4 separate regions of the Homo sapiens genome follow, and regions 1, 2 and 4 are each reported to be linked to region 3. Evidence: microRNA targets listed by miRTarBase, many of them from high-throughput screens and not tested one by one. Region 3 holds a microRNA gene; each other region holds the end of a gene's coding sequence. Distances are from middle to middle.
The links. Region 3 holds the annotated microRNA hsa-miR-4783-5p (GGCGCGCCCAGCUCCCGGGCU, at 2,327-2,347, shown strand). A microRNA usually pairs through its seed, bases 2 to 8, with sites in the 3' UTR of a target mRNA and lowers its output. Matches are read on the target gene's strand: a 7mer-m8 pairs with bases 2 to 8, a 7mer-A1 pairs with bases 2 to 7 and ends in A, and an 8mer does both.

Region 1: the mRNA of FAM163A is a reported target of hsa-miR-4783-5p. Seed matches in the 3' UTR shown: 7mer-A1 at 2,686-2,692.
Region 2: the mRNA of HJURP is a reported target of hsa-miR-4783-5p. Seed matches in the 3' UTR shown: 7mer-m8 at 3,486-3,492.
Region 4: miRTarBase lists SSX5 as a target of hsa-miR-4783-5p. Seed matches in the 3' UTR shown: 7mer-A1 at 3,056-3,062.

Annotation. Positions count from the first base shown.
Region 1 is chr1:179,812,420-179,818,335 of GRCh38, forward strand. It overlaps FAM163A (family with sequence similarity 163 member A), which reads left to right. Exons shown (of 5, transcript NM_173509.3): 4 at 657-771; 5 at 1,360-3,779. The coding sequence starts at 679. The coding sequence ends at 1,770. It overlaps LOC105371634 (a long non-coding RNA gene), which reads right to left. Exons shown (of 5, transcript XR_007066756.1): 2 at 5,573-5,670; 3 at 4,949-5,455; 4 at 2,480-4,108; 5 at 1,876-2,175. Among named protein-coding and RNA genes, the nearest start is that of MIR12116, 11 kb to the left of the region's middle. RefSeq lists a silencer at 675-900.
Region 2 is chr2:233,833,670-233,839,585 of GRCh38, forward strand. HJURP (Holliday junction recognition protein) reads right to left here. Exons shown (of 9, transcript NM_018410.5): 9 at 3,033-3,983. The coding sequence ends at 3,908. Among named protein-coding and RNA genes, the nearest start is that of HJURP, 18 kb to the right of the region's middle.
Region 3 is chr2:127,421,786-127,425,932 of GRCh38, reverse strand. MIR4783 (microRNA 4783) reads left to right here and starts at 2,315; the gene lies at 2,315-2,396. PROC (protein C, inactivator of coagulation factors Va and VIIIa) reads right to left here. Exons shown (of 9, transcript NM_000312.4): 4 at 2,992-3,016; 5 at 2,762-2,899; 6 at 2,525-2,659. LOC105373608 (a long non-coding RNA gene) reads left to right here. Exons shown (of 2, transcript XR_007087228.1): 2 at 1-1,233. RefSeq lists enhancers at 1,852-2,648, 2,649-3,447.
Region 4 is chrX:48,183,348-48,189,263 of GRCh38, forward strand. It overlaps SSX5 (SSX family member 5), which reads right to left. Exons shown (of 8, transcript NM_175723.2): 7 at 4,280-4,384; 8 at 2,873-3,509. The coding sequence ends at 4,284. Among named protein-coding and RNA genes, the nearest start is that of SSX5, 10 kb to the right of the region's middle.

The DNA.
Region 1 (5,916 bases), not on the chromosome of region 3:
GTTTGAAGGAGAAGAGAGATACCCCCAAAAGAAGTGCTGGTTTGAGCCAGAGAAGAGCCACCTGGTGTTTTCGAGATGTGGCCCTTTCCCCGCCAGCCCGGGCCAAAGGCTCAGGGACCACTGGGGTGTGTGCCAAGAGGGCGGGGATCAAGAGCACAGCCTTTGGGATGAACGGGCTGGGTGGAATCGCAGCCAAATTATTCGCAGCCCCGTTCAGCATGCGTGCGGTAGGGATAGCTAATAACTGCCCCGAAGGGTTATCGCGAGGATGTAGTAAGATGCGTGGGGGTGCTTAGCATGATGCCACACAGGGAGGAGCCCCGCAATCAGCGGCAGCTGTTCCTCTGTGTCTGCAGCCACGCAGAAGCGGGAGCTAAGAAGGGTGTGACGGGAGAGGAAAGGCGAGAAGAGCACCAAAGGGGAAAGATCGTGAGAACTTTTTGAAACTGGGTACTCAACTTCGCCCACTTAGGCTGGCCCAGTCTGGAGCCACAGTCGTCCTCAGCCTTCAGGAAACCCCTGGGGCCTGGCCCTCCCGGCACCTGCTGCTCTCAGGCCCCCTGCCCCAGCCTCGGGGCAGTTCCAGGAAGACTCCCCCCGGCCCAGCCCAGGGCTGCAGCCACAGCTGGTCCTCAGCCCTCCGCACATCTTTGCAGAGTTTGATGGGGCGCCGGGCGGATGACAGCGGGAACGGTTGTGATCACTGGCGGAATCCTAGCTACGGTGATCCTCCTCTGCATCATTGCCGTCCTGTGCTACTGCAGGCTCCAGGTCAGTCCCCGGGACCCGTAGCCAGAGGCTGCCAGGCCACCAGCAAACCTCTTTTTCATTATGGGGGCAGAAACTGGAGGCCGACTTCAGGGCCCACAGAGCCCAAAGCTATGGAATGTAGCAGGCGTAAGTCAAGGAGGATGGGAGTTGGGGCTGGTCGGAAGGGAGCTAAGTGCCCCCCAGCCTGCCCACTCAGAGCACACAGAAAGTGTGCTGGAAAGATACGGGGTCATTGGGTTGTGTCTCCTGCACCTCTGAGATTTCAGGAGCATGGGAAGAGCACCATTCTGGGGAGGCTCTGAAAGCTGCCGCCAGCAGCTCCAGCCCTGTCCTCAATATGATGTGTGTGTCCCTGCCCCGCTCAACTACAGCCTGGAGTTACTGCGAGGAGTGGTGGGAGGGGAAAAGGAAAGCAGTACTGGCCTTGCAAAGCTGGGATTAGAAACTTGTGGAGCAGGCCCCTGGGGTTCAGTGCCTGGCACTAGGTTCTCCATGGAGCAGGGGACAGGGGCACCTGTGCACGCTCAAAAATGCATGGGGCGGGGGGAGCATTCACCCTCTCAGGCATCCCTCTGCCCTTCCGCACAGTATTACTGCTGCAAGAAGAGCGGAACCGAGGTTGCAGACGAGGAGGAGGAGCGGGAGCACGACCTTCCCACGCATCCCAGAGGCCCCACCTGCAATGCCTGCAGCTCCCAAGCCCTGGACGGCAGAGGCAGCCTGGCGCCTCTCACCAGCGAGCCCTGCAGCCAGCCCTGTGGGGTGGCCGCGAGCCACTGCACTACCTGCTCCCCATACAGCTCCCCCTTTTACATACGGACGGCTGACATGGTGCCCAATGGGGGTGGAGGCGAGAGGCTCTCCTTTGCTCCCACATACTACAAAGAGGGGGGACCCCCATCCCTCAAATTGGCAGCACCCCAGAGTTACCCGGTGACCTGGCCAGGCTCTGGGCGTGAGGCCTTCACCAATCCAAGGGCTATTAGTACAGACGTGTAAATCCTTCCACCCCGACCCGCACACACACCCACACTGCTGCCCTGGCGGGGGCCATGGGGGTGATGAATGACCCTCCAACAGCCCCACATGGGTTGTTTCTGTTTCTTTGGCTTTTCTCGCTCCGCAGTGGAGGGTTTACTAGGATTTAAGCTTTTGAGTGCATTGAGAACCAAGACAGGGCCTGGCTCCAACTCTGTGGGCCAGAGGTGGGGGACTGCTAGGTCGAGTCTGCAGCTTCGCCAGTTTCTTGGTTGGGACACTCCTCTGGCAGCCCCAGCACCACCACAACCCCTTGCAGTGTGCCCCAGTCCCCTGGATTCGCTGGACTGCAAAAAGGAGCACCAGGGAAAGCTCAGCAAAGGCTCAGGAGGCCTCCCGGGTCCTCGGGAGATGAAGCATCCGTGCCTAGGAAAAGGGGACAGAGGGCAAGGAGAGAAGTGAGAGCTACAATTCCAGCATTGGAGAAGCGAGGGGCGGGGCGTCAACGGCACTGCTTCAGGACGCGCTTGCTGAAACGACTCCAACAGCTAGTTCACAGCCCAGCTTTGTACGTTGGTTACCATAGCTACTGCTGTCACTGTAGCTGCTCCCGTAGGGTCGTTGATTCCTGAACGTATCACATCTCACCTGCCCCCTTCCTCGTGGGACGTGTCAAGTTGACTTTAAAGCCTAAGGTGGCTTGTGGGGACTGCACCAGAAAGTGTCTAACCTTGTGTTCCCCGAAATCCTTTCTCTGACTTAGGAACCAGCGCCCCCTGCTGGAGAAGTTTTTTCATTTTGTTAGCCGACTTCTGGTAGCTTAGCAAAGAGACCAGCTGACTGTCTCTCGGCCCAGCCCACCACGCCGAGTAGCTTGTGTGGATGCAGTCCTGTGAGGGTGTGCATAACCGTTCCCAGGTGTACGCACGCGCGCGCGCGCGCACAGACACACACACACACACACACACACACACACACACACAGTAACCACGGGTAGGCACCAGGGGCTTTGTACATTCAGGAGCTGCAGAGAGGAAAGGTCTCCCATGTACCAGAGAAGGAAAAGTCTGATCCCGAAACAGCTTGAACGAAAGGTGGTTAACACGTGACCAATCCCCATGGCAGACAGCGGGCTGGTGAACAGGAAGAGCACAGAATCTCTGTGGGGCGATGCTGCAGCGGCTGAAACCACGTCAAGTCCCCCAGAGCCCGGCATTCTATGTAAGCATCCACCTGTGACGCCGTGGAGCAGGATCTTCATTCATCTCACCAGAGCAACAGCCCAGTCCTGAGGATGGGAGGGACGTGACTTAGCCTTGGGATTCCACGCTCGCCGCCCTCCCTTGGCCGCCCTACTCCCCAGTTTCCTGGCGATGAGCCATTTATTGTGTCTCACACCAGCCTCATTTCCAACTCCGACTTCCTACTTAGAATGTGGCAGTGGCTTTGTGAGTGAGAATCCTGATGAGTTTTCCAGTGGCCTCTGCAGAAGCTGGCCCCCTTCTAAGGGCATAGCTAACCCCCTTCCCACTCCTGAGTCACTGAATTCGAGGAGGGTGGGGCAGGGAAAGGGCTGGCCCCCCTGCTGAAATCTTGATTCTGCATTTGAGGAAGGTCAGGGTGCCGCTGGGGGAGCAGGGAGCGGGGAGGGAGGAAGAGGGGAATGCACATCTTTTGCGCCACTATTAAGGCACCTGTCACCTTACATCTCAATCTGGAATCAAAGTGCCCTGGGTTGAGAAGCAGACCTGGGCTCTGGTCACACTTTGGTCACTCATTAGCTCTAGGACCAGTCACTAATCTCTGAGACTCCATTTTCTCCAGGGAAACGAGGCTTGCCCAGATAGACTAACAACCCTTTAGTGCTCCAAGAAGTGAGAATTTCCGAAAAAGATCTGCCGGCCCAGAGCACTCCCTCTTGCCCTAATCCTGGCAGGGTCTGGATGTATTTACCCAACTCTGATCTTGCGTGCAGGGATGCTTGCTGATGGATGAAAGACCACAATAAAACAAGATTAGCAGCAAAACAATTTTAATTGTCAGTGAAAAGCAAACATGTTTGTCAGACTCTCCTGTGGAGTCATTTCAAATGGTAACTCTTCTCTTGTACCAGGAAGCAGCTGTAGGTGGGGTAATGGGATCTGTCTCCTGGTGCAGAGGGGCAGCTTATGGCGGCAGCAGCTTCAACAAGCCCGTCCCACGGCCAGCCCTAACTGGGCCAAGTGCAAGCTCCTGATGAGCTGCTGGGCCTGGCAGCGTTCCCCACTTCCTAGTGCCTTGCTCCCCTGGAATTCCACAGCCAATCAACCACAGCAGCCGTGTCCTCCTTGCCAGAAATAACATCATTCGTACGTCCTGCCTTTGTAAAAATCAAGACCCAGTTAACCATCACCCACTTCTTGCCCCTGATTGATGGGGTCCCTGAGTACAAGCGTCCTGTGCAATCCCCTCCCTCCTACCGCTTTCCTAGCTAAGCCCTGCTAGCCCCACAAATCAGAATCTGGGTTTGGGGTGCTGGAGAGATGGTGGGCCCCAGCTCTTCCCCACATAGCCCACGCTGCTCAGGGCACGGTCTCCAACCAGGCTCGAGATTGCCTGCCTGCCCGCTGCAGCCGCAGGGCCCCACCCTGTGGAAAAGGAAGCTTCCCCCACTCAACTGCACTGTCCTTTTCTGCTGTCTAGTCTGTGCTAAGGGACACTACTTGTACACTTTTCAAACGGTGCCCTAAATTGGAAGAGAAGGAGGGGCCAGGAACACAGCCCTCTCCGCCGTCTTTCTCCACCTCCACTTCACCACTCCTGCTCTAGACTTCTTGTCTTGCATCTTTGATAACTTGGAGTCATAACCGAGTGGATGTCGGAATAAATGAGAGATTTGAAGTAGAAATCCCACAGGGTCCTTCGTTCTTCACCGGGGGAAGTGAAGGGGGCTGTTGGTGTGGATTTAAGGGTGAAGCCTCCTCTTCAACACCCAGAGCGTCTGTGTTCCACGCTCTCCCTGCTCCCACGGTAGCAAACCTCCACCTTGTTGCCTGGCATGCCCCCATTGCCTCAGTCAGAGTTCAATCGGCGGAGATTTGCTGTTTGTTGGGAAAGTGGCTGAAGGGCCCTGCTGAGGATAGTGAGTTTCCCTGTGGGGCAACCCAGGCCTCGGCCCCTGCTACCTGCCCTTCCCCTCTTCCCAACCCTGCACACACACCTTCCAGGCTGGTGGTCTTCCTGCCTGTGTAGCTCAGGGTAAAATCACTTCTCTGAAGCCTGAGGAGATCATGTCACATGGCCAGCCCTTTGTTACAGGGGCAGCAAGGGAAGAGAGGGGAATTGGGACCAGATCCCCAGTGCAGCCCAGCAGAGACTACAGAAGTGGAGAGGGATGGAGGGGGACTGGAGAACTGGGAACTAGCTTTGTGTGTAGGAGGGAGAATTCGGGGATGAAGTGAGAACGTCTTTTGTGTGTGTGTGTGTGTGTGTGTGTGTGCCTGCACTTGTGCACATGGGTGTGTACGAGACAGCTGCTCTCTCTCCACCTCAGGGCCTCAGGGCGAGCCCTGACTGCAGCTTGGGGGTACAGCAGGCAGCCTGCCCCAGCAGTCCAGCACCCAGGCCTCCAGCCCTGCAGCAGCCTTCCCTAGCACCAGTGGGAGCACAGCTTCCTTCACCCTCGGCCCAGGGAGCAGTTGGCCACAGCTCTGTCACCACAGCTGTTCTATGGAATCAGAAACCAGACCCTGAGGCACACTCATCATTGCATCCATCCCAACCTCCAGCCATCTCCTTTGCCGCCGCAGGGCAGCCAGCCCGGACTCGGCCTCCAGCCTCTCACCCGGCACATCTGCTTGGCCTCATGCTTGCTGGCAAGTCACGGCCCTGACCCAGCTCTTCTCCCTGGTGGCCCTCAACTGCCTTCAGCCTCAGCTCCAGCTGGGGAGGAGGGTGGAAGAGCAGCTTGAGTCAGACTGAGGAATGCAAGAGAGGTGCTGGCCGTCCTTGTCACTGTTCTTTGGAAAATGCCTCCATCAGTGCCTGAAGTTCAAGGAGTGTGGGCTGTTTTCTTTCTGAGTTCTGAGCAAATCGAGCTGGGGGACTCCGGGGCATGCTGCGCTATCCTGGGAGTCTCGGCCTTAGGCGGTTTGGTGATCTTCCCCTGGAAATAATCAGTGGGTCCTG
Region 2 (5,916 bases), 110 Mb from region 3:
CCAGGGACTCTTCTTTTTTTTTTTTTTTTTTTTTTGAGATGGAGTCTTGCCCTGTCGCCCAGGCTGGAGTGTAGTGGCGCAATCTCGGCTCATTGCAACCTCCACCTCCTGGGTTCAAGTGATTCTCCTGCCTCAGCCCAGGTGCGCAGCACCACGCCCAGCTAATTTTTGTATTTTTAGTAGAGATGGGGTTTCACCATGTTGGCCAGGCTGGTCTCAAACTCCTGACCTCGTGATCCACCCACCTTGGCCTTCCAAAGTGTTGGGATTACAGGCGTGAGCCACCGTGCCAGGCCAGGACACTTCTTAAAGGGAAAGGCACCTAACCACAACACACATCAGAGGGAGGACTGCAGCCAGGGTGCAAGTGCTACAGTGGCACAGGAGGGTGGGTGTGCAAGTCTGGAGACAATCCAGAAAGGCCGCATGGAGGAACTGACATTTATTCCAGGCCCTTCCCTTTGCGACTTAAAGTTACCAAAGTTAAGTTTGGACTGTTGCAACTGGAGCCCAGTGAGGCCTGGAACAGAATTTGGCTGCTGGTCAAAAAGGAGAAATTAGCCCCATGTCTAAGAACATGTAGGGGAAGAGAGGGGCAGTGTGGGGAAGGCTTTTGCTATGCTCAGGCCATCAGAATAGTCTAGGTGTCCCCAGAGCAGGTAAACCAGGACTTCCAAACTGTTCCCAGTCCAACTGCCAAAGGAATTCACCATCCGGGGTCCCATCAACAGGAGAGAGCTGCTATGCTGTCCAAAATCCAACCCGTGCTAAAGCCTTCTCTGGAACAGTGGTCTTCAAACTGTTTTGTGGAGCAAATGGTGACTTGATTTCCTGCCCAGTGATAAAGAGTATTGCTGCTAAACAAGCTTGAACACCACTGATGCAGTGGGGAGAGTGCACCATTCGATAGAGTACAAGGAGGCAGCTGTACATCTGTACAATTGGCTCTCCTTCCATGCCTGTGCAGAAACATTTCCAGATGGTTTATAGACCTAAATGGAGAGAGCAAAATTTAAGACAGTACAGTATTTTTTTTATCCTGAGAGTATGGTAGTTTTTCTTTTAAAAGTAACAGCAGAAGCCAGAAAAAAGGAGGAAGTTATCTGCCTTAGTATGTTTAGCGTTGCTAAAACAGAATACCCAAGGCTGGGTAATTTATACAGAAAAGGTTTGTTTAGCTCCTAATTCTGGTGGCTGGAAAGTCCAAGAGCATGATGTTGGCATCTGCTTGGTTTCTGGTGAGGGCCTTGTGCTATCTCGAGACACAGTGGAAAAGCAGAAAGGTGAGTGGGCAGGTGCAAAGGCAACCCGCTCTCACAGAGAGTGAGAACTCACTCCTTCAAGAGGGCATTCATCTATTCATGGGGTGTCCACTCCCATGACCCAAAAACCTGCCACTAGGCCCCCACCCCCTAACAATTACATGTGCAATTAAATTTCAAGACAAATGGCATCCGAACCATAGCATTGTGTTAAAATGTAACTTCCATACAATAAAATAACACAAAGTTAAATGACAAATGATAGATGATAGAAGTTAAAAACTGGATTGTTTCATATCATTGGATCCAGAATACATCCAAATCAGGAAGAGGCAAATATAAAACCAGTGTCCTGAGGACATTTAAAAAACCAGGACTCCCAGGAAGACATGCTCAACAAGTCATCAAGAGAAAGCAAACTGTGAAGCAACACATCTTACACCTGCCAGAGCTCAGACTGGCAGCAACTGGCAGCGATAATGTGGGGAAAAGGTACCTCTTATATTGTGGGACATTGGGCAAACTGGGGCAGCCATTTGGGAGAGCAATTTGGCAATAACTATGGAAGTTCAAGGCACACCCATCCGTGACCTGTAATTTGCCTCTAGGTGTGTGTGTGCCACAGATAGTTGACAGTTATGCACAAGGATCACGGGTGGATTTTGCACCCGTCCGCAGACATCCAGGACAATAAACCACCTAGAGAACTCAAAGTGAGATGCCCACATCTATCAGCTCTTGTCATATTCAGTCTCTTGATGAAACAAAACTGTAGCATATGTACAGTATTAATTTACTCATATAGTTTGAAACAGAGAGACTATACCATATATAGTTTATGGGGCCCTTATTGGCAGATCTGTAAGTTGGCAAGACCCATGCCCAGATCCTTCCACCTCACCTTCCTCCACTGGATGACAGAACACCGGCCTTTCTGGCAGCCAGGCCTGGCCCGGGCAGCAAGGTTTCAGCTGTCTGCTGGGTGTGGGGGAAGGAGAGGCACAAGCAGTTCTGGGTTGCAGTGATGGTTTTCCTGAAGAGGAAAGGGTGGGTCGCGTTGTCCTTTAGGAAGCAGCAGGCCTGAGGGAAGGCTCTAGATCTGTAGGGGCCATTCTGGCCCTGGCTGAGCCTGAGCCAGCATTACACTGCCGGCCTGTTCTTTGAGGAAATGAGCCGTCTGTGAGGTCTGCAGCACCTGGCGAGGTTCTCGGCTCTCAGCAGCGTGCACCCTCCTTACTGACTCACAGGCTATGGATTGAATTATGATTAAGTCCTAGCCCCTGGCATGATGGTATTGGAGATGGGGCTTTCTGGAGGTGATTAGGTTTAGATGAGGTCATGAGTGAGGGGCCCTTATGATGGGATTAGTGCCCTCCTAAGATACCAGAGACCTTGCTCTCTCCAGCATGTGGGGACACAGCAAGAAGACAGCTTTCTGCAAGCCAGGAAGAGTCCTCACCGGAGCCCAACCATGCTGGCTCCCTTGTCTTAAACTTCTAGTCTTCAAAAACTGTGAGAAAATAAACTTCTACTGTTTAAGCCACCTGGTCTCCAGCATTGTTATGGCAGCCTGAGCATGCAGGTGCGCACGCACACACACACATAACATGGTCCCAATGTAAGACGCAGGGGGGAAGAGATATGGGGCAGGGTATGGGGGTGATACCTGACATCAGGAGAGCAATCGCCTGGGGCGGCAGGCGGGAATGAAAAATGTGTAATTTAATCTCATTTTAAATCTTTCATAAAAAAAAAAAACCCAAACTCATATGGCCATATATTAACTATTTACTCCAGCATGAGTTTCACCAATGTATTCTGAATATGTGAAATATTTCATTACAAAAACGTCACCATGATATCCTGTCATCAACAGCTTCAGTAAGAATCATGAGGAGTCACAGGCGCTGTGGCTGCAGGAGCGTCTGGGACCACCAGGACTGTTTATTTTCCTTCAAGGGTCATTGCATGCAGGGCTCGAACTTACGTCTCACAAGCAAACAATATTCTCGAATGAAATGGGAAACAGGAGAGAGGATTCTCTGGACATATCTAAATTTAAAAAAGAACACACGGCTGGGAGCAGTGGCTCACGCCTATAATCCCAGCACTTTGGGAGGCCGAGGCAGATGGATCACGAGGCCAGGAGCTCGAGACCAGCCTGGTCAATATGGTGAAACCCCGTCTCTACTAAAACTACAAAAATTAGCCAGGCGTGGTGGCGCGCGCCTGTAATCCCAGCTACTCGGGAGGCTGAGGCAGAAGAATCGCTTGAACCCGGGAGGCGGAAGTTGCAGTGAGCCAAGATTGTGCCACCGCACTCCAGCCTGGGCGATAGAGAGAGACTGTCTCAAAAACAAACAAACAAACAAACAAACAAACAAATAACCCCCCCCCAAAAAAAACACACACATCAGAAAAACAGGCCTATCAAAGAGAACCCTAAAAATTCTAATTGAGCAACTTTATTCACATAATTTCTACACCAAGAACTCGAGGTTATCTCTGATGGAACCAATTTCACTAATATTTACTTTAAGGGCAGAGAAGTCAACCAAGTCCTCACAGTCTCAAGAATCAAAAACAAAACAAAAATACAAACAGAGAGCAAGTGGGAAGATAAATAACACTCCGAAATAACCTAGCTACACACTTTTAGTTTCCAATTTTTCTAGCATGAAATCACTTTTCTCTTCCATCCTGTAAGACGTGTTCTCTCCTCTAGGAAAAAAAAAAGACAAAGAAAATGATGTTAGCAAAATTCTAGAATTCCCAATGCCAGCCACTAAAAGGTTAACTGTTTTCTACTTATTCCATTGCATGTATAAAAATACTTATAGAAAGTGGCATTACGTTAAATAAGTAAGTTATGTTAAAGAAACAACAAAAATATAATGGCAACCCCCCGACCCTGCTCCCCACACTCCCCCAGGGAGCACAAGCTGGTGGGGAAGTCCACATCCCACACCCTGGCCCAGCTAGCGCTGCTGCACGAGTGAATTTAGGAGTTCTAAGACTTAAGCTACTTTTCCATATCTATTAAAAGGAGAGACAGCCTGCCTATTGGACAGAATCGATCTAATCAAGGGGTTCTGGTGGGGATGAAAGAAGATAAGACGTAAAAACGGTTCAGCATGGCCTGGCACACAGAGAGCACTCAGACGTTAGGCATGAAAACTCCATATGTAGTTGCAGCTCATGAAGAATTGGTCTCTTTCCTCAAGAAATCTATCATTTAAGCGGGAAAAGCAGAAAAACATAGGAAACCAGTTAAACATGTTTATATTGTGGTTTAAAATGAAACCTGGGGTGTTCATGATTTGACTTGCTATCAAATTCCAGGGTAGCTGGGAGGGCCCTGCGGGGCCACCAAGGGCTGAGTCCTCAGGATGGTCCCACAATAATGCAACCTCACACCATTCTCTACAAGGCCGAGGTCCCTCCTGTGTGGCTGGGCCAGAAGAAAGCCCTTTAGACTGAGCAGGTGAAAAAGCAAGGCAGGAGCCTCTGCACGGAGCACTGGGGCAGATGTCACTCATGGAAAGGGGTCTGCAGGCGACTGGCACGGTGCCAGATCATGGAACAAGGTGGGAAAAGGCACGAGACAAAATCCCAGGGGCAGGATGATGGTAAAAGGAAGAGCTGGGGCACTATCTGAGAAAAAGCAGTTAGGTTTAGACAAGCAGGACGAGCAGAGCAGAGGAGCTCTGATGTGTGGGAGACCAGGAGAAACCTCAGATCTCTCTCTGGGCCGGACAGTTGTTTTTGGTGAAATTCTCCCCTTTCAACTGAGAAGGAGACTCTTGAGAGGTCATCTGTTAAACAGAACGCATAAACTTTGCCTCAAAGCAGCCTCCATGAAGTGTCTGCCATGAAGATGTAGCTGAGATTCTTGAAGGCTTCACTAACTGTGGCTGAAAGTCACCCGGCTGGTGGTTTGGTCTGAAAAAGCCCCAAGTGGGCACAGGAGTGGGCATCAGGCACACAGTTGGAGACCAAGACCCGAGGGAAAGACTGCTGTTAGCCGTGCACTGCCAGGGGAGGAGCTCCGAGGGCCCTGCCCACACAGTGCCCCTGACCCTAGCTGGGGCCCTGCAGAGAAAAACCTTTCCCATCACCTGAACACTTACGTATGTCCATCCTCAACTGGGAAGACAGATGACAACCAAGGCTTGTTTCATCTGCTTCTGGTTAGCTCACACAGTATGACTTTATACACGAAAATAACTTTGAAAACCAAAACATCCAACAAAACCTGGGAGCTTCTAGAACTGAGCCAAGGAGCCTGAGCCGCTAACCCATGAGACTGGTCTGTGTCCAGACAGCTCCCCACTGCAGCACCCACCATGTGCAGCCCCTGGGAGGGTGGGGGTTACCTGCACGGAGCAGGCAGCTGAGCGGTGGGTGGAGTCTAGGGAGGATGTCCGAGGATGCAATAGCAAAGAACTGGGGAGTAGGGGGAGAATGCCAGTGAAAGTTCCCTGGAAGGGAAGGGCTGTCCTACGGCAGACCCTGGAGCAGGTGGCCCTGAGCAGTCCAAGGGCATTGGGAAGACAGAGTGACAGTGAGAAAGGCCCCAGGGGGCTCAAGCCACAGGAGGCCGCTGGCGGTCTGAGAGTGTGGTCTCTGCCATGCACAGGCGGGACTGCAGGCT
Region 3 (4,147 bases):
GAACCCCCTCCAGTCAGCCAGTCAGTCAGTCAGTCAGTCAACAAACAGTGCCACTGAATGGTAAGAGTCAGACCAGGCAGCATCACCCACTGGCTGTGTGTCCTTACATAGGTTGTTAAACTTCTTGAAGGCTCATTGTACCCCAGGGCTGTTGGGGGTAATCCCTGAGATACAAATTACAAACCCCCTCCAGTCAGTCAGTCAGTCAGTCAACAAACAGTACCACCCAATGGCAAGAGTCAGGCCAGGCAGCATCGCCCACTGCCTGTGTCTCCTTACATAGGTGGTTAAACTTCTTAAAAGCTCATTGTACCCCAGGGCTGTTGGGGGTGATCCCTGGGATTAGTAAGGTCTCATAATGGGATGCTGCTGAGCTCCTCACAGAGGAAAGGAATTACAGGGAGAAGGAGGTGAGCATTCTTGGAGAGCTCCTACAATAGGCATGGCATGTTTGTGAGGCCTCCCTGCCAAGAAGAGAGCGCATACTCCATGGAGAACTGAGGGCTGAAAGGTCGGCCCGACTCTGCTCAAAATGGGCCTTGAATGCCCAGTCCAGATATCTAGACTTAAAAGAGCAATGGGACGTCGTCAGCAGGGGAGCTGCATCATAACAAAAGAATGGAAAGGGCACAACAGCAACAATTCCAGAAGCTGACAGCAGATGGATGGACACAGTAACTGACTTGGCAGACTGGAAAGCAAAAATCTCAGCCCGTGATGGGGGCGCCCAGAAGCTGAAGGACTGGACCACGGAACCATAGGAGGCTGTGGGGCTTCCAGGAAGGCAGTGCAGGTGGGAGGGCATGTTGAGAGTTTGTAAGAGAAACTGCGAAAGCCCTCCTCACTGACTTGACTCCCCTCTCCCTGCCTGCAGAAGGTGAACCAGAGGCTCTGACTAGGGACTTCAGGCCCCGCTTCAGGAAGGAGTGGTGCTCTTAGCTGACCACAGGGAGTCATGCAAATGTCCACAGCCTGCACAGGCACCAGCTCCCCTGCCCCACCCTGCTCTGAGGGGCCGAACACCATGGGTGAGCGTCTTCCATCCTCCAAGAGCTTGGAGGAGTCCTCTTAGAAAGCAGCCTAAAAGGAAAGCCCTCACGATCTGGGGTTCTGCCAATGACAGGGCCTTCCCAAGGCCTTGCAGGAAACCCACAGGCCAACAGGCCCACCAGGCATTTCTTTGCAGCTTCCTGGAAATATCTAATTATTTCAAAATAAAAAGTTAAATTTTTAGATCTTTTTTTACTTTTTTTAAAAATAGAGACAGGGTCTCACTGTGTTGCCCAGGCTAGTCTCAAACTCCCAAGCTCAAGCAATCCTCCCACCTCAGCCTCTCAAAGTGCTGGAATTATTGGTCTGAGCTACTGAGCCTGGCCAAAAATTTTTTTCTGCAGAAGAATTGAATTATAAAGTTGTAGAAAGTTCCCTGAAAGAGGCTGGGCGCGGTGGCTCACGCCTGTAATCCCAGCACTTTAGGAGGCCAAGGCAGGTGGATCACCTGAGGTCAGGAGTTCAAGACCAGCTTGACCAACACGGAGAAACCCCTTCTCTACTAAAAACACAAAATTAGCTGGGCGTGGTGGCGCATGCCTGTAATCCCAGCTACTCGGGAGGCTGCGGCAGGAGAATCGCTTGAATCCAGGAGGCGGAGGTTGTGGTGAGCTGAGATCACGTCATTGCACTCCAGCCTGGGACAACAAGAGTGAAACTCCATCTCAAAAAAAAAGAAAAAAAAGAAAGTTCCCTGAAAGAAAACACAAAGTCAAAGAGATGGGAAATAGAAGAGACAATAAAACTAGAGGAAAGAGGTCTGAATAATGGGAGGTCCAGAAAGAGAAAATAGAGGAAGTAAAGGGGAGATTGTAGAAGAAATAAGTGATAAATGTCCCTAGAGGCAGAAGATAGGAATTTCCACATTAAAAGGGTCCACCTTTTAATGAAAATGAATGAAAAAAGGACCCATGCCAAGGAACAGCATGCTGAAATGTAAAAGTTGTAAAACTCTGATTTTTAAAGTTTCATACATATATAAATTTGATTAAAATGCATAAAAAGGAAAATATAGAAGAAGGCAGAATCGGGATTCTGTTCTCTCCTCAAGGAAGCAAGGGGGTAAAGAGGGAAATGCGATGCACGCCGGACAACGTCAGAGAAAAACGCAGCCAGGCTACATGGAGGAGGACGCTGCACGCCTCGCCCCAGATACGCTCAGACTGGGGAGCGGAGCCACCACTGGGCTTGCGCTCCAGGAGGTGGCCCCAGGTGCGCAGGGGGCGCCCGGAGGAAGGCGGGGACGCCAGGAAGAAAGGAAGCAGGGAAAGCGGAGGGCGCGCCCAGCTCCCGGGCTGATTGCGCTAACAGTGGCCCCGGTGTTGGGGCGCGTCTGCCGCTGCCCCAAGGCTCAACTCTGTTCCTCGCTCCCTCCCTAGAAACCCTCCTGAGCCCCCCGCGCCGCGCCCCGTCAGGGGGCCTGCCCACCCTGCACCCAGCGTGATTCCTGGGCGATGTATTGGGGGCTTCTCACCTGCGGGGTGACACTGCAGGAGGTCGTCCCCCAGCTTGTAGCCAGGCGCACAGCTACAGCGCCGCCAGCCCACCTCCTCTAGGCAGTAATGCGTGCAGCCGCCGTTGTCCAGCGAGCAATTGAGGAAGCTCACCTCTGCGGGCAGGGGAGGGCGCGGGCAGCTGGTGCTGGTGCCGCGCCCCCAACCCGGCCCCAGCCCCGCCCCGCCGCCCGCCAGCATCCACCTCTCCCCCTCACCGCGCTGGCAGAAGCGGCCCTCCCAGCCGCTGCGGCAGTCGCAGCTGAAGCTGCCGATGCCGTCGATGCACGTGCCGTGCCCGCAGCACAGGCTGGCGCACGGGTGCTCCAAGGGCAAGACCAAGCACTGGTCACCGTCTGCGACACAAGGCGGGGTAGGGGGTCAGCGGCCAGAGATCCCGAGGGGCGCGGGCGCCGGTAGTCCAGCCGGGGATCTAGAACGCACTCACCGACGTGCTTGGACCAGAAGGCCAGCTGCGGAGAGAGCGGGCAGCGTCAGGCTCCTGCAGCCGGTGTGCGGAGGGGGCGCGCCCGGGTGGGGCAGGGCAGCGGGTGAGCGGGCAGGGGAGGGGAGGGCTTCCAGACAAACAGGGATCGACGCCCGATGGTCGTTGGCTGCTAGGAGCTGGTGCTCCCTGCCCCTCCCCCGCCCTCCAGCGCCACCCGCCCGCGCCCAGCCTCCATCCCACGTCCCTGGAGCAACACCCTCTCCCCATGCAGCTGCAGTGCTGCTCTCGCGACTGTCTGCTCCCACAGCAGCCTCTGGCATGCAAGGGACCCGAATCCCTCACCAAGTCACTCGGCCTCCTTCCAGTCCCATCACTCCCTCTGCCTGCGGGCTTTGGGGGACCCCTGAGCATCGCGCCTTTCCCTAAGCCAGTGTTTTTCAGAGTTGGGAGGATGGGGGCAGAGGGTCTGCGTTCCTAACCAGGTACCAGGGTTGCTGCTGCGGCGGCTGCTGCTGGTCCAGGACCACCCAGCCCACGTTGAGACCCACGGCCTGTGCCTGATGCCTGCTCCATCAGAGAGGCCAGCCAAGGCCTGCTGGGGCTGAGAGACCATGGGTGAGGTGGGAGCACGGTGGGGACTTGATGTGATCAGATATGTGCCTGCAGAAAGTCACTGTGGCGTCTGCCAGGGAGGCCACTGGGGAAAGAGGTGGTGGGGATGGAGGTCCAGATGGGGGTCCAGTCAAGGAGGTGGAGGCTGAGGGCAAGAGAGGGTGCAGGCCAGAGGGTCTCCTGCCCTGAAAGCCTCCACTGGAAAGCATCCCTGGATGCCTTGGAAGGGGGCCCAGGCCGTGCACAATTTTCAGGTCCTAGTGGCTGAAGCGATCCCCAGGGACAGAGCGGGTCTGAGCCTTGTCTCAGGAAGCCAGCCCCGTTACCAAGCTCACCCTACTACCTAGGGCCACGTCCACAGGACTCTGGGGGCTCCAAAGGACTCTGACCCTTAGACAAATAGGACACAGACCCTGTCTTCCGACCCCCTGAACAATCAGATTTTCTCCCTTTGATGTGAGGCACAGAGTGAGCGATTTTATGTGGACAGAAGTGAGTTTCGGTCACACACACACCCTGATCAGCAGAGGCATGGGTGGAAGCA
Region 4 (5,916 bases), not on the chromosome of region 3:
AGACAGAGACTTACTCTGTCGCCCAGGCTGGAGTGCAGTGGCATGATCTCGGCTCACTGCACCCTCCGTCTCCCAGGTTCAAGGGATTCTCCCGCCTCACTCCCTGCAGTAACTGGAATTCACAGGCCAGCCACCACTACCGGCTAATTTTTGTATTTTTAGTAGAGACGGGGGTTTCACCCTGTTGGCCAGGCTGGTCTCAAACTCTTGATCTCAAGTGATCTGCCTGCCTCGGCCTCCCGAAGTGCTGATATTACAGTGTGGGTCACCGCGACCGCCCAGGAGACGCTCTTTGTAACAAAGCCTCTGAAAATCTCCAAACCCTGAATCAAAGAAAACACGGAGCTGGAAAGGGCCTTAGGAAAATCATCATGTAAGTTAATTTAAAAGTTCATCAGAAACGTCTGAATCAGCCAGATTCCCCTCCAACACCACAGACAGATTGGCTGGCAGTAGCCACTTTTGCCTCTAAGATGAAACTCTGATAATTATTCATTAAAGAAACTGAAGGCCTGGCGAGGTGGCTCACACTTGTCATCCCAGCACTTTGGGAGGCTGAGGCAGGAAGATTGCCTGAGGCCAGGGGATCCAGAACACCCTGGGCAACATAGTGGATGCCGTCTCTACAAAAAAATACAAAAACCAGCTGAGTGTGGTGGTGTGTGCCTGTAGTCCCAGCTAGATCGGAAGCTGAAGTGGGTGAATCCCTTGAGCCTGGGAGATCGAGGCTGCAGTGAGCAGCCTCGATCACTGCATCACTGCACTCCAGCCTGGGCGACAGACTGCGATACTGTCTCAAAAAAAAAAAACACGAAAAAGAAATGTATCAGGACTTGGTGTAACTTCAGCCCTTCACAGTAATAATGAAGTAGAGAAACACATTTGTGGAGAGGGGACCATGTTCACTCTTTATCCATGATAGACAGATAGTCGGGAGCTTTATATACCCAAGGAACCTAAGGAAAAATGTTCCCTGTCATGACTCACAATCTTCCAGCCACCCTTCCTTGCACCTGTCTTGTGGGCTGGGGGACCCAACTTATGGATCCCATCATCCCAGGGAGAAAGAAAAGTCAAATCCTTCAGTATCTCTTTTAGGGTATTCTCTCCTCTTTGCATGGAGGATAAGGCACTCAATATCTAGTATCGGAATGTTACATTTGTGTAATACAGAACTATATTGGGATAAAATAGAATTTGTTTCTTCTGAGACACAGGTAGAGGCACGTCCACACTGACCTGGGTGGAAGCCATCTCTTCCTGAAGTGCCAGGCAGGGCATGCTCACAGATCTGGGGAACCTCTGTTGCTCCTGGAGCCCCACAACCTCCTTCCTGGCACCCTCTCCCTCTGGTGGCTGTGACAGCCCACACTTGGCCTTGGGTATCCCCTGCTTCTTTGCCTGCCCCTCTTCTGCCCACCCTGCATATCTCTGTCTCCCACTGTCCCTGCTGTGACCATGACCGCCTCTCCCTCCCCGCACTCTCTCTCTCCTAGGGCTCCTTGTCTTGGGAAAATGAACCCACAGCCTCTACCTTGCAACTGGGGACAGAACCCGGAGTTTGTTCAATTCTCCCTCCCTCCACCACACACACCTGTCCTCCTTAATGTTTCTGAAGTCAGTGAGCTCCAAACTCAGCTCCTCCTGCACCTGCCAGCTGTAGGACCTGTGACAAGACACCTACCATCTGTCTGGGACTCTATCTCTCATCTATCATATAGGCATAATGATCATAGTGTTCTCCTTCCAAGGCTGGGGAGAACCAGGAGGCCAAGGTGATGGGGTATGAATGGTCAAAACAGCTCCAATCCTGCCTCCACCTGGGGCTGCTGTTTCAAGTCCGTTGTGTTTCAAGCATTAATGTCTCCATTCACACACAATGGTTTGTTCTAAAACAGACTCCCCTCTGCCCTTCCCTTCCCCACAACTGTTTCACCTCTGCACCGTGCAGTGGTACCTGTGAGAAAGAACTGTCCCATTCCCAAATCATCGTCTCCACCCCAGCCCCCAGGCCCTTGGGTGGTGAGACCCTTGATGGGCAGTCTCATGCTTCTGTCCAGGGGACTTTCCCACCGTTGCTCCCCCGCATGGAGACTAAGTGAACTCTTCTATTCCCTGGCCATCACAGGGTCTACAGTGCACGCATCTTCCCCATCCCTCTGCATTCCCCAGATGATGATTTCATCTGTGTCTCCTACCACATACTCCCAAATGGACCGTCCCAGCCCTAGAACCCGAAAATCGTTCAGAGAGCAAAGGCCAAGATTCCCAACCACCTGCTGCAGAATACTGCTCCAGGACTGAAGTGTATAGTCTCTATCAAAATAAAAACTGGAGGCCAGTTGCGGTGGCTCATGCCTGTAATCCCAACATTTTAGGAGGCCAAGATGGGAGGATCGCTTTGGCCCAGGAGTTCGAGACCAGCCTGGGTAATATAGGGAGACTTTCTTGACAAAACCTGAAAAAATTAGTGGGTCATGATGGTGTGTGCCTGTAGTCACAGCTTCGCTGGAGGCTGAGGTGGGAGAATCGCTTGAGCCCAGGAGATCAAGGCTGCATTGAGCTATGATCATGCCACTGCACTCCAGCTTGGACAGAGTAAGACCCTGTCTCTAGAAAAAAGCAAAAAAAACCCAACAACTGGAAACATCCTCCTCTAGAATGGTGGTCAGGAACATCTGTCTGCCCTGTTCCCTGATGTCTCTTCAGCACCTATAACAGCGCTCAGCACGAGGACGCACTCATTAGGGTTTTGTTGAATAAATGACTCCTTTGACACAGCAATTCCACTTCTAAGAATCTTTCCTAAAGAAATATTCACACAAGTGCACAGAGCTGTGTGCACAATAATGAGAGGAGCAAACAACTGGGGAACGTTTGCAAAGGTTTATTAACTGGCAGTGACTGATAGAGGGGAATCGGATGAGGGGAGTACATGCTGAACAGGAAACAGAGTGAGGGGGGCTTGACCAGGACACATGGGGAAAAGCAGTTGGGAGATGCCTATACTGGTACTTGGTGTGTGTGTGTGTGTGTGTGTGTGTGTGTGTGTGTGTGCGCGCGCGCGCGCATGTGTGTCTGTGTGGCATGTGTGTGTGTTTGTGTAAATGCAGAGGAAAAAATCTGAAATTAAACACTCAGAACTGCCCTCAGTGGTCACATCTGGGAAGAGAGGAGGGTAGTGTTGTTCTATGCAGAGAATACCTGACGATACTTGTTTTCTGAGGTAGGTGCATGGATACACAAACTGAAATATGCATTAAGTATGTCTTGCTCATCAGTGAAAACGCTAATATCTAACAGAATGGCACACTGTAACAAAATACAACAGAAACACTAACATCGAACTCTTGGCACACTAAGAAAAATGACGCTCAACTTTTCACTGTTGTGAACACTTGCTTTCACTTGCTATACACCTGATGACGAGGGATCCGCAGCCATGCCCATGTTCGTGAAAGGTCACCACGTTCTGCTTCTCATCATGGGCATGTGTCATATCCCCGAGGCTGAGGCAAGAAGCGAGAAGGAAAGTAAGTGGCAGTGAGTTCCCACCACATGACAACTCAATCTCAACTCCTCCTGACCTGCAGACCCTGCCCACTCCGATTCTGCCCTACCTCAGGACCTGTACACGCCTTCCATGGTTCCTTGAAGTGAACCATCTGCTCATACCACAGTGACTTCCTCGCCTGGGTTATCAATTCCTAGGCTAGAGGAAGGTGTGGCCCGCATATCAGTGCTGACCTGGGGTTTGGGAACCCACAGCATCCTGGGTAGGGAGGATCCCTGGATATAGAGGGCAGGGAGTAGAAAGAGCATGGTTAGGCAGGCGCAGAGGCTCACGCCTGTAGTCACAACACTTTGGGAGGCGGAGGCAGATGGATCACGAGGTCAGGAGATTGAGACCATTCTGGCTGACATGGCGAAACCCTGTCTCTACTAAAAATACAAGAAAAAAAATTACCCGGTCGTGGTGGCGGGTGCTTGTAGCCCCAGCTACTGGGGAGGCTGAGGCAGGAGAATGGCGTGAACACGGGAGGCGGAGCTTGCAGTGAGCCGAGATCATGCCACTGCACTCCAGCCTGGGGGAACAAAAGGAGACTCCCCCACCCACAAAAAAAAACATGGGAAATTTCATCATTCAGCCTCAATGCTGTACCCTAGAAAATTATGAGAAGGGAATGATTTGGGGAACAACTGATAAGATGGGATACCAGTACCATAACAGAATAGCACATCTGCAAGGATGTGGGAGATGAGCCAAAGGTTCACTTACGGAGTTACTCGTCATCTTCCTGAGGGTCGCTGATCTCTTCATAAATCACCAGTTGCTTTCTCTCACGCACTCTGTGGGTCCAGGCATGTTTCCCCCTTTTGGGTCCTATGATGGAGAAGAGTTGGAAGATGAGGGTTGGGTAGATTGGAGAGGGTTGGGTTGATTGGAGAGTGTTAGGCTCTGTTTTCTCCAAAAAAGGAGATGCCTCCCCACCACCAAGTGCCCATGGGTCTTCTTTATCCAGTTTTTCACATTCTCTGGCTTAGAGAGGCTGAGACCTTAGACCCACACCAATACAGGCCAAATGCAAATTAAAGTTTTAGCTTCTGGCTCCTTCCGTTGTCAGGTTTAGATTCCCAACCTCTTCACTTACGGGAACATTCACCCTTACCTCCTTTCATTCAGCACGTATTTATTAAGGCCACACAGGCGTACCTTGTTTTATTGCACCTCATTTTCATACTGCTTCACAGATGTTGCAATTTTTTTTTTGGAAATTCTCACCAATTTTACACTTTTCCATTATTATTATATCTGTTATGGTGATTTGTGATCAGTGAGCTTTGATATTATTACTGCAATTGTTTTTATTGTTTTTTAGTCTTTTAAAATAATTTCTGTTTTTTATTTTTGTGGGTACACAGTAGGTGTATATACTTATGGGATACATGAGACGTTTTGATACAGGCATGCAAATGCGTAAAAATCACATCATGGAAAATAAGGGATCTATCCCCTCAAACATTTATCCTTGGTTACAATCAATCCATTTACACTCTTTTAGTTTTCATACTGCACAATTAAGTTATTATTGACTATAATCACCCTGTTGTATGTAATTATTCTGGGGGTAACAGGAACTGCACTCATAGAAGTTGACAAACTTAATCGACAAATATTGTGTGTGTTCTGACTGCTCCACCGATGAGCTCTTCCCTGCCTCTCTTCCTTTTCTTGGGCATCTGTATTTCCTGAGACATATCAACACCGAAATTAGGAAGATTAACAACCCTACAATGGCCGCTAAGTGTTGAAATGAAAGGAAGAGTCGCATGTCTCTCACTTTAAATCAGAAGCTAGAAATGGCTAAGCTTAGTGAGGAAGCATGCTGAAAGCCAAGACAGGCTGAAAGCTAAGCCTCTTGCACCAAACAGCCAAGCTGTGAATGCAAAGGAAAAGTTCTTGAAGGAAGTAATAGTATATAATGCAAAGGAAAAGTTCTTGAAGAAAATAATAATACTAATACTCCAGTGAACACAAGAATAAGAAAGCAAAACTGCCTTACTGCTTAAATGAGAAAGTGGTCAGGATAGAAGACGAAACCAGCCACAACATTCCCTTAAGCCAAAGTCTAATTCAGGGCAAGACCCAAACTCTCTTCAAGTCCATGAATTCTGAGAGAGGTGAAGAAGCTGCAGGAGAAACGTGTGAAGCTAGCAGAGGTTGGTTCATGAGGTTTAAGGAAAGAAGCCGTCTCCATAACATAAAAGTGCAAGGTGAAGCAGCAAACCCTGATGGAGAAGCTGCAGCAAGTTATCCGGAAGATCTAGCTAAGATCACTGATGAAGGTGGCTACACTAAACAACAGATTTTCAATGTAGATAAAATAGCCTTCTATTGGAAGGAGATGCCATCTA